2 separate regions of the Homo sapiens genome follow, and region 1 is linked to region 2. The links come from fine-mapping of genetic effects on gene expression. A gene starts in region 2. The other region holds a variant in brackets. All regions are shown on one strand. Distances are between the middles of the regions. Region 1 overlaps PDSS2 (decaprenyl diphosphate synthase subunit 2). Region 2 holds the start of PDSS2 (decaprenyl diphosphate synthase subunit 2).

Evidence for each region. PIP is the estimated chance that this variant, and not a neighbour inherited with it, causes the effect. A credible set is the group of variants that fine-mapping cannot tell apart.
Region 1: its variant is the best candidate, but not a certain one, in a credible set for the expression of PDSS2 in liver (GTEx, PIP 0.73).

The regions. Positions count from the first base shown.
Region 1 is chr6:107,186,807-107,191,200 of GRCh38, reverse strand. The region is part of intron 7 of PDSS2 (decaprenyl diphosphate synthase subunit 2); the gene reads left to right. Among named protein-coding and RNA genes, the nearest start is that of BEND3, 73 kb to the right of the region's middle. The variant T/C (reference allele first, on the strand shown) is at 1,820.
Region 2 is chr6:107,456,987-107,461,380 of GRCh38, reverse strand. PDSS2 (decaprenyl diphosphate synthase subunit 2) reads left to right here and starts at 1,817. Exons shown (of 8, transcript NM_020381.4): 1 at 1,817-2,391. The coding sequence starts at 2,096. RefSeq lists enhancers at 855-1,776, 1,497-1,946.

The sequences.
Region 1 (4,394 bases), 270 kb after region 2:
CATTGCTCTAGGCCGGGCACGGTGGCTCACACCTGTAATCCCAGCACTTTGGGAGGTGGAGGCGGGCGGATCACGAAGTCAGGAGATCGAGACCATCCTGGCTAACACGGTGAAACCCCGTCTCGACTAAAAATACAAAAAATTAGCTGGGCATGGTGGCGGGCGCCTGTAGTCCCAGCTACTTGGGAGGCTGAGGCAGGAGAATGGTGTGAACCCAGGAGGCGGAGCTTGCAGTGAGCCGAGATCACGCCACTGCACTCCAGCCTGGGCGACAGAGCAAGACTCCGTCTCAAAAAAAAACCCCTTCATTGCTCTGTGTTGTCTATCCGGCACATTCGGAGCTTGCTGGGTTGGCATATACGGGGCTGTGTGATCTCTCCCCTAAAGAGACCCTCCAGCTTCATCTCCCATGGTCCTGCAGCAGCACCAAGTTTCATAAAGCATACTGCTTCTGTTCTCTGCGCCTTCACTCATGCTGTCCCCTCTGCTTAGAATGTCCTGCCGTCTTTATCTGGCTCCCTCTGCTCATCCTATGAAGCTTAATTTGGGATTGTCTCCTATAGCAAATCCTCTGTGGTTTCCCAGGCTGGATTAGGTGCTTTCCTCAGTTCCTCAATACACTGTGCATTTCTCAGTCACTGCTCTTACTCTGTTATATTATAATGATCCATTTATGAGACTGATCCTAGACTGTGAGCTCTTGGAGGGCAGAGACAGTTTCTTTTTTCTCTTAGTATATCTGGTACCCAACACAGTACTTGACACTTAGTAAGTGACGAGTGAATGAGCAAGTAAGCGAGTGAACAGAGGCCATGAGTAAGAAAATAGAAAACACACGCAGTAAGTTGGGGAGAAGCAACCTGCTGCAGGAGAAAATCGGGGGATAGGGCATTGGTTCTCAAGGCAGAGAGGAAAGGAAAGCGTTTGACACAGTTTGAGGATATCAGCAGGGTTAAGAAGATTGCTTAGGAAGGTTGTAGTAAACTAGTTTGAAGATAAAGACTGGGATTTTTACTGTGGTAGTGACAGAAAGCTAACATATGAATAAAAAGATAAGGGAAAAGAGTGACAATTGAACATTGATGCTTATTTTGGTTATTTTTGTTTTTTTTTTTTAGAGATAGGGTCTCACTCTGTCACTCAGGCTGGAGTGCAGTGTCACAATCATAGCTTACTGCAGCCTCCCACTCCTGGGCTCAAATGATCCTCTTGCCTCAGACTCCCAGGTAACTAGGACTACAGATATGTGTCACCACACCCGGCTATTTTTTTTTATTTGTTTCTTTCTTTCTTTATTTATTTAATTTTAAGGAACGAGGTCTCGCTGTTACCCAGACTGGTGATGCTTTTTTTATGACTCAAAGAATGCCTCTGGGGTTTCTTATCACAGAAGCACTTGACAATGGAAGAGATTTCCACTGGAAAATGGCAAAGAGAAAAATATGGTGCACAAATAAGAGCACCCCTGGACCAAGCAATGGCTCTGCCACCAACTCAATGCAAAATCTGGTAACAGTCACTGTGTTAGTCTTTTCTTGCCGTGCAATAAAAAATACCTGGCTGGGGCCGGGCACAGTGGCTCACACCTGTAATCGCAGCACTTTGGGAGGCCATGGGGGTGGACCACCTGAGGTTAGGAGTTTGAGACCAGCCTGATCAACATGGTGAAACCCCGTCCCTACTAAAAACACAAAAATTAGCCGGGTGTGGTAGCACGTGCCTGTAATCCTAGCTACTCGGGAGGCTGAGGCAGGAGAATTGCTTGAACCCCAGTGGCACAGGTTGCAGTGAGCCAAGGTCATGTCTTTGCATTCCAGCC[T/C]GGACAACAGAGCAAGACTCTGTCTAAAAAAATAAAAAGAAAAAAAATATATGTCTGGGTATAGTGGCCAACACTTTGGGAAGCCAAGGCAGGAGCACTTGAGCTCAGGAGTTCGAGACCAGCCTGGGTAATATGGCAAAATCCTGTCTCTAAAAAAAATACAAAAATTAGCCAGATATGTTGGTGCACACTCATACTCCCAGCTACTCAGGAGGCTGAGGTGGGAGGATTGCTTGAGCCTGAGAGGCAGAGGTTGCAGTCAGCTGAGATTGTGTCACTGCACTCCGTGCTAAAAATATTAAAAAATAGCTAGGTATGGTGGTGCACACCTATAGTCCTGGCTACTCAGGAGCCTGAGGTAGAGGATCACCTGACCCCAGGAAGTTGAGGCTGCAGTGAGTTGTGATCACGCCACTGTACACCAGCCTGGGCAACGGGAGTGAGAGTGAGACCCTGTCTCAAAAAAAATGAAAAAGAAAAGAGGTTTAATTGGCTTATGGTTCTGCAGGTATACGAGAAGCATAGTGCTGACATCTACTTCTGGTTAGGCTTCTGGTGAGCTTAGAATCATGGCACATGGCAAAGGGTATTGGGCATGTCACCTAGCAAGAGAGGGGAGGTGCCACACACTTTTAAACAACCAGATCATGCATGAGCTCACTGAGTGAGAACTCACTCGTCACCAAGGGCATGGCACTAAGCCATTCATGAGGGATCAGACCCCCTGACCCAAACACCTCCCGCTAGGCCCACCTCCAACAATGGAGGCCACTTTTCAACATGAGATTTGGAGGGGATAAAACATCCAAACCAAATTGTTCACTTAATCTCTTTGGTCTTTTCTTAGTTTCCTCAGTGCAGAACGAGCAGTTTAGAGTAGTGCTGTTCTATTCCCTAGGCCCATTCTAAATCTGGGAGGAGACATTCTTATCCTGAGGTCCAGACACACTCCTTCACCCAACCGACATTTATTTATTTTTAAATTTAAATTTTTTTTTTTTTTGAGACAGGGTCTCACTCTGTCACCCAAATTGGAGTGCAGTGGCACAACCTTAGCTCACTGAAACTTCCGCTTCCTGGGGTCAAGTGATTCTCCAGCCTCAGCCTCCCAAGTAGCTGGAACTACAAGTGCAAGCCACCAATGCGCAGCTAATTTTTGTATTTTTTGTAGAGATGGGGTTTTACCACATTGCTCAGGCTGGTCTCGAACTCCTGAACTCAAAGCGATCTGCCCGCCTCAGCCTCCCAGAGTGCTGGGATTCCAGGCATGAGCTACCTCACCCAGCCTTTATTTGATGTTAATATATTGGAGGCACTATGCTAGTGCCAAGACAACCATCATGAACACGACTGCCAGGGTTTGCCATCACAAGCTCCCTTGACTCCAGCTTCCCTATCTAAAGTAGCCACTCCACCTTTGCTCTGTTTTTTTCTCCTTAACATTTATCATAACATAAAATTATCAGTTTGTATTTAAGTGCATGTTTATTTCTTCTTCCACTAGCATGTAAAAGATCTAACGGCAGGTGCTTCGGTGGCCTTGCTCATGGTTGCATCACCCTCCCTAGCACAGGCTTACATAGGAGTGCTTGACAAACATGTGTGCATGAGTATTACATTCGTGTTATGTTAGGAGACGTACAGGAGGTTAGGAGAGGTCTGGGATCGAGGACCGTAGACTCAAATTAGTCATTTTAAGAGGTTTTTTTTTTTTTTTGAGATGGAGTTTCACTCTTGTTGCCCAGGCTGGAGTGCAATGGCACAATCTCGGCTCACTGCAACCTCTGCCTCCTGGGTTCAAGCAATCTCCTACCTCAGCCTCCTGAGTAGCTGGGATTATAGGCATGCGCCACCACACCCAGCTAATTTTTGTATTTTTAGTAGAGATGGGGTTTCTCCATGTTGGTCAGGCTGGTCTCAAACTCCCGACCTCAGGTGATCTGCCCACCTCGGCCTCCCAAAGTGTTGGAATTACAGGCGTGAGCCACCACACCGGGCCTTAAGAGTATATTGACTGTGTAATACATTCCATCCCAAAGTTGCCTAAGGTTGTCTTTTCAAGTGCCCAGTAATAGTATTTCTCATGCCAGTAAATAGAAACCCACCCCTCCTTGAATATGTAGTGCTATTCTGATATTTAAAGACATAACTCGATTTAGGTAGTTAATCCAGACCTGTCAGCCTTAAACAGACTTAAATCCAAGTAACATAGAGAAGAAAGATTATATCTTTCTCTACTAAGTCTTGGGGAGATGTCTGCAGTATTATGCCTTATGCAGTATGTTATGGACTCTTGGCAATGCATCTCATGACCTAAAGTCTACTCCTCCCTGCTTTGTGTGCTCTGCTTTTTGTGGTCATGATGTTCAGGCTAATATAGGCATCACACTTAGTGGCTTAGGGTTCCCCTGGTAGGAGTTATTTGTAAAATAGTATTTGAAAAACTCAGCAGCCATTTCAGGAGACTATTGTGAAATTCATTTATTGCTGGAAATTTCTTTATTTCCAAGTGATAGGTATTTGTAAACTCAAAAGCCAAATTTTGTCTGAAAAGTCAGATATCAAGAAAGTGTGC
Region 2 (4,394 bases):
ACAGGAATTATTTTCAAACTTCAGCTTACTTACTTTAAGGGCATAGACTGTGTTTGATACTTATAATCACAATTCATGTTAAATAAAATGTGCCCCTGAAAAGTTACACCTAAACTGAATTTTTGTAAATAAAAAATTTAAATCACAAGGAAAACTTGCCAAAGGGAGAGTATGAAGCTAAATCTTTTGTAGAGAAAATCATCTTGTTTTGCAAAGTGAACAACTACTCTTTAAGTCCCAATCTTTATTTGTAGCTCAAGAGGCTGGTACAGTATTATGCATGATGCTCATTTAAAAAATACTGACAGGCTGGGCATGGTAGCTGGTAGCTCACACCTGTAATCCCAGCACTTTGGGAAGCCGAAGTGGGCGGATCACTCGAGGTCAGGAGTTTGAGACCAGCCTGGTCAACATGGTGAAACCCAGTCTCTACTAAAAATACAAAAGTTAGCCGGGCGTGGTGGCAGGCGCCTGTAGTCCCAGCCACTTGGGAGGCTGAGGCACAAGAATTGCTTGAAACTGGGAGGCGGAGGTTGCAGTGAGCTGAAATCGCGCCGCTGTACTCCAGCTTGGGTGACAGAGCAAGACCCATCTCAAAAAATAAATAAAAAATAAAAATAAAATACCATGAATTTGGAAGGATTTTGAAAGTTTTAGAGAGTTTTATAAGCTATTTTTAAGAGTGTAAAAAATGGATAATATATCCTTTATTAAGAACGGTTAACACCTGTTTTAGGTGATAAGAAAGGAGGTAAGATCTTAGGCACATTTGAAAAAAAAATAGGTAGCATTACTTAAAAGATAATCATATTGACTGTTTCCTCTCAGCAATAAGGAGAAAAGAGTGGATGGGAGCCTATTATTTAGACGGTGTAATCTTTCGGTTAGAATACGGATTCTGAAACCAGATTGTCTGGGCTCACATCCCTGTCTAGTGTGGTCTTAGGGAACTTACGCGACTCGACTGCACCTTAGTTTCCTCATACAAAACACGGAGAATACTAATATTATCTACTTAATGAGGTTGTTCTGAGGATTAAATAAAGTAATACATGAACTAGTACGTGAAAAGCACTCCGGTCAGCGATAGTCTTCAATCCTGGAGTTGAGCTCCAGGCTAGGCATAAAGAGGAAGATAAGAGGCAGGGAGTAGGCAACGTTTCATTCTTCCTCTCCGCACCCGCGGGAAGGAGGCACCGCTGTTTCTCCCAAGGCTCAGCGAGGAGGCCGGTAATTCGAAGTTGGATCCGAGGACTTTCCTTGGGACCCCTTTCCGCCGCACCACGCTGCCTTATGTCTGGTTGGGCCCTGAGGACACGAGGGCTCAGCCCCACGCCCCGACTAGGCGTTCCACCACTGAGACGTGGCCCCAGCTCCAGGAGGCATGCAGCCCGAGAGGCCGCCTTCACGCCCGGCCACGGCCACTGCCACTGCCAGGGGCTGGTGGCGATAGCGACAAAAAGCTTCCGGGAGGAACTGGTGCCTCCGCCCGACGCCCTTCCTTGCGGGCAAGCCGGGGGCTGACCGTTGTTCGTGACACCAATACTTATGCATGCCACTCAGTGCTGGGCGCCGGGGACTCTAATGAATCCAGACTCGGCCCAGATACCGTGTGCAGAGGGACCACTCGCCGCCCACAACTGATCCCTGTCACTGACGACCTTTGCTGGCCCAGAGCGGCGGGGTGGGAGGAGCTGAACCTCCCAACCCGGGTTCACCTCCAAAGCACCGCCCCTGCGGGGGCGTTCTCGGGTACGCCGTAAAGTAGAGAGTATACTTAACAACCCGCCTCTGTCTTTACGGCAGGCCGCATTCCATGCCTCCAATATGGCGTCCTCCACATAGGCAGTGGCTGTGGTTTCTACCCCGGGTGGCCGGGGGCAGTGCTGAGCTGGGACTGTTGTTTGCCCAGCCTGGGCTGCAGAAAGCAGCAGTTAAAGTTCGTTTCTGGTCACTGCTCCAGGAAGCCACCTTACTCTGAGGGTCAAGAATTGCCGCTTCCTTTTAGTTACTGTAAGTTCCTCCTCTGCCCCTGGTTTGTTTCCCGCGGCACTTCTGGATACCCCCAGGTCCCAGACCCTTCCAGACTCAAACCATGAACTTTCGGCAGCTGCTGTTGCACTTGCCACGTTATCTTGGAGCCTCGGGTTCCCCGCGTCGCCTGTGGTGGTCCCCGTCCCTCGACACCATCTCCTCGGTGGGCTCTTGGCGTGGTCGGTCCTCCAAGTCCCCGGCCCACTGGAATCAGGTAGTGTCAGAGGCGGAGAAGATCGTGGGGTACCCCACGTCCTTCATGAGCCTTCGCTGCCTGCTGAGCGACGAGCTCAGCAACATCGCTATGCAGGTGCGGAAGCTGGTGGGCACTCAGCACCCTCTGCTTACCACAGCCAGGTGAGCTACCCCTCTCCCGCTGACACACTCGCACTCATTGGAATACTTTTTTTTCTGGCGGGCATACGCATTCTAGCTCTCTCAGACTGGCTCCTGATTTATCTCTTTTTAGTCCTTCCTTTTTACTCACTCCTCCTAGACATTCCGTGTTGTCTCTTCTCTAGTCCACTTAACGTTCTTGCTCAGCTGAGTGCATAAGTGGTTTTCTTTGAAACACTTGTATGCTTTCCTCGATTTTGCTTCTTAATTGTTGAGGATGAAGATGCCTCAGTGATTTGTGGAGAAATCGAGCGGAGATGTAGGTTTATTGAGTCACTTCCTAGAAATTTTTTTTTTTTTTAATGGGATAGATTAATTTTCTGTCCCGCACTGTTCAGGGGGTCACCTCCAGAAAGTAGGCAAGGAGAGAGAGAGAGGCTGAAGGTAGATAATTCTTTCCAACGAATGTCTTGGGGTTGAAGTAGGAATTTATCCCGTTAGTAGTCATTATCTTCTTGGGATGTTTATCACTTATGCTGTACTACTGCTGTGAAACCTGCCTTTAGGATTTATAAAAGTTTTTTTTTTTTTTTTTTTTGAGACGGAGTCTCGCTTTGTCGCCCAGGCGGGAGTAGCTGGGACTACAGGTGCCCGCCACCACGTCCGGCTAATTTTGTTTTTGTATTTTTAGTAGATACGGGGTTTCACCGTGTTAGCCAGGATCGTCTCAATCTCCTGACCTCGTGATCCACCCGCCTCGGCCTCCCAAAGTGCTGGGATTACAGGCGTGAGCCACCGTGCCCGGCCAAAAGTTTTTTTTTTTTCTTCCACTTAAACCCCACACCTGAATTGTAATTAGTTTAAACATACAGCGAAGTTACAAAAATAATATAGTTCAAAGAACACACTTGCATACTCTTTAATCAGATCCACCTGCTACGTAGATATGTCTATATATGTCAATATATACATTAAATACATATACACACAGATATATATACTATTCACGTGTATATATCTTTCTATATATTTTTTTCTGAATCATTTGATGGTAGATTGCATACATCACGATCCTTTTCCCCTAAATACTTCAGTATGTATTTCCTAAGCATAGCAGTAATCTCCTACGTAAGTACGCTACAGTTACCAACTTAGGTATATTTAATATTGATACAATACTTTTATTTAATCTACCATTTAATTTCAATTTTGTTAATTGGCCTAATAATGTTCTTTATAGCATTCTTTACCCTCCAGGACAGGATTCAGTCCAGGATCAAGTATTGCGTTTAGTTGTTATATCTCTTTCATCTTCTTCAATTAGGAACATTTTCATATCTCTTCTTGGCTTTTATGACTAGAGCACTGGTTCTCAACTGGGGCAATTTTCCCCCCCTGAGGACATTTGGCATGTATGGAGACATTTTTGGTTGTCACGAATGGAGGCACATTACTGGCATTTAGTGGATAGAGGCCAGGGATGCTACCCTTCAATTCCCAGGACAGACCCACAAGAAATAATTAGGTGCTGCAAAATGTCAGTAGTGCCAAGGTGGAGAAATCCAGGACTAAAAGGACCTTTTTCTATTGTTGTTTTTAAAAGTAAACTTCTATTTTGAAGTAGTTTTAGATTTACATGCAGTTGGAAGAAATAACACAAATCTAATATACACCTAACCCTGTTTCTCCCAATGGTAACATCTTTTGAAACGATGGTGTAATATCATAAGCAGGGTATTTATGTTGATACAGTTAAGATAAAGAACATATTCAGCACTATAAGGATTCCTCATGTTGCTTTTTTAGCCACACTCACTTCCCTTACCCACCCCTTGCTTTAATTTTTCGAGGCACCTGTCATTTTCTTACTACAAAAGTTATCAAATAGTAATAATAAAGTGATTTTATTCCTTGGCATCGTTCCCAGTTATCAGGAATGTCACCTTATGATTAGCTGGAATGTTAGTTTTCCAGAGATTCTAGATGATACACACTCAAAACACATACACATATGTTTAAAGCTT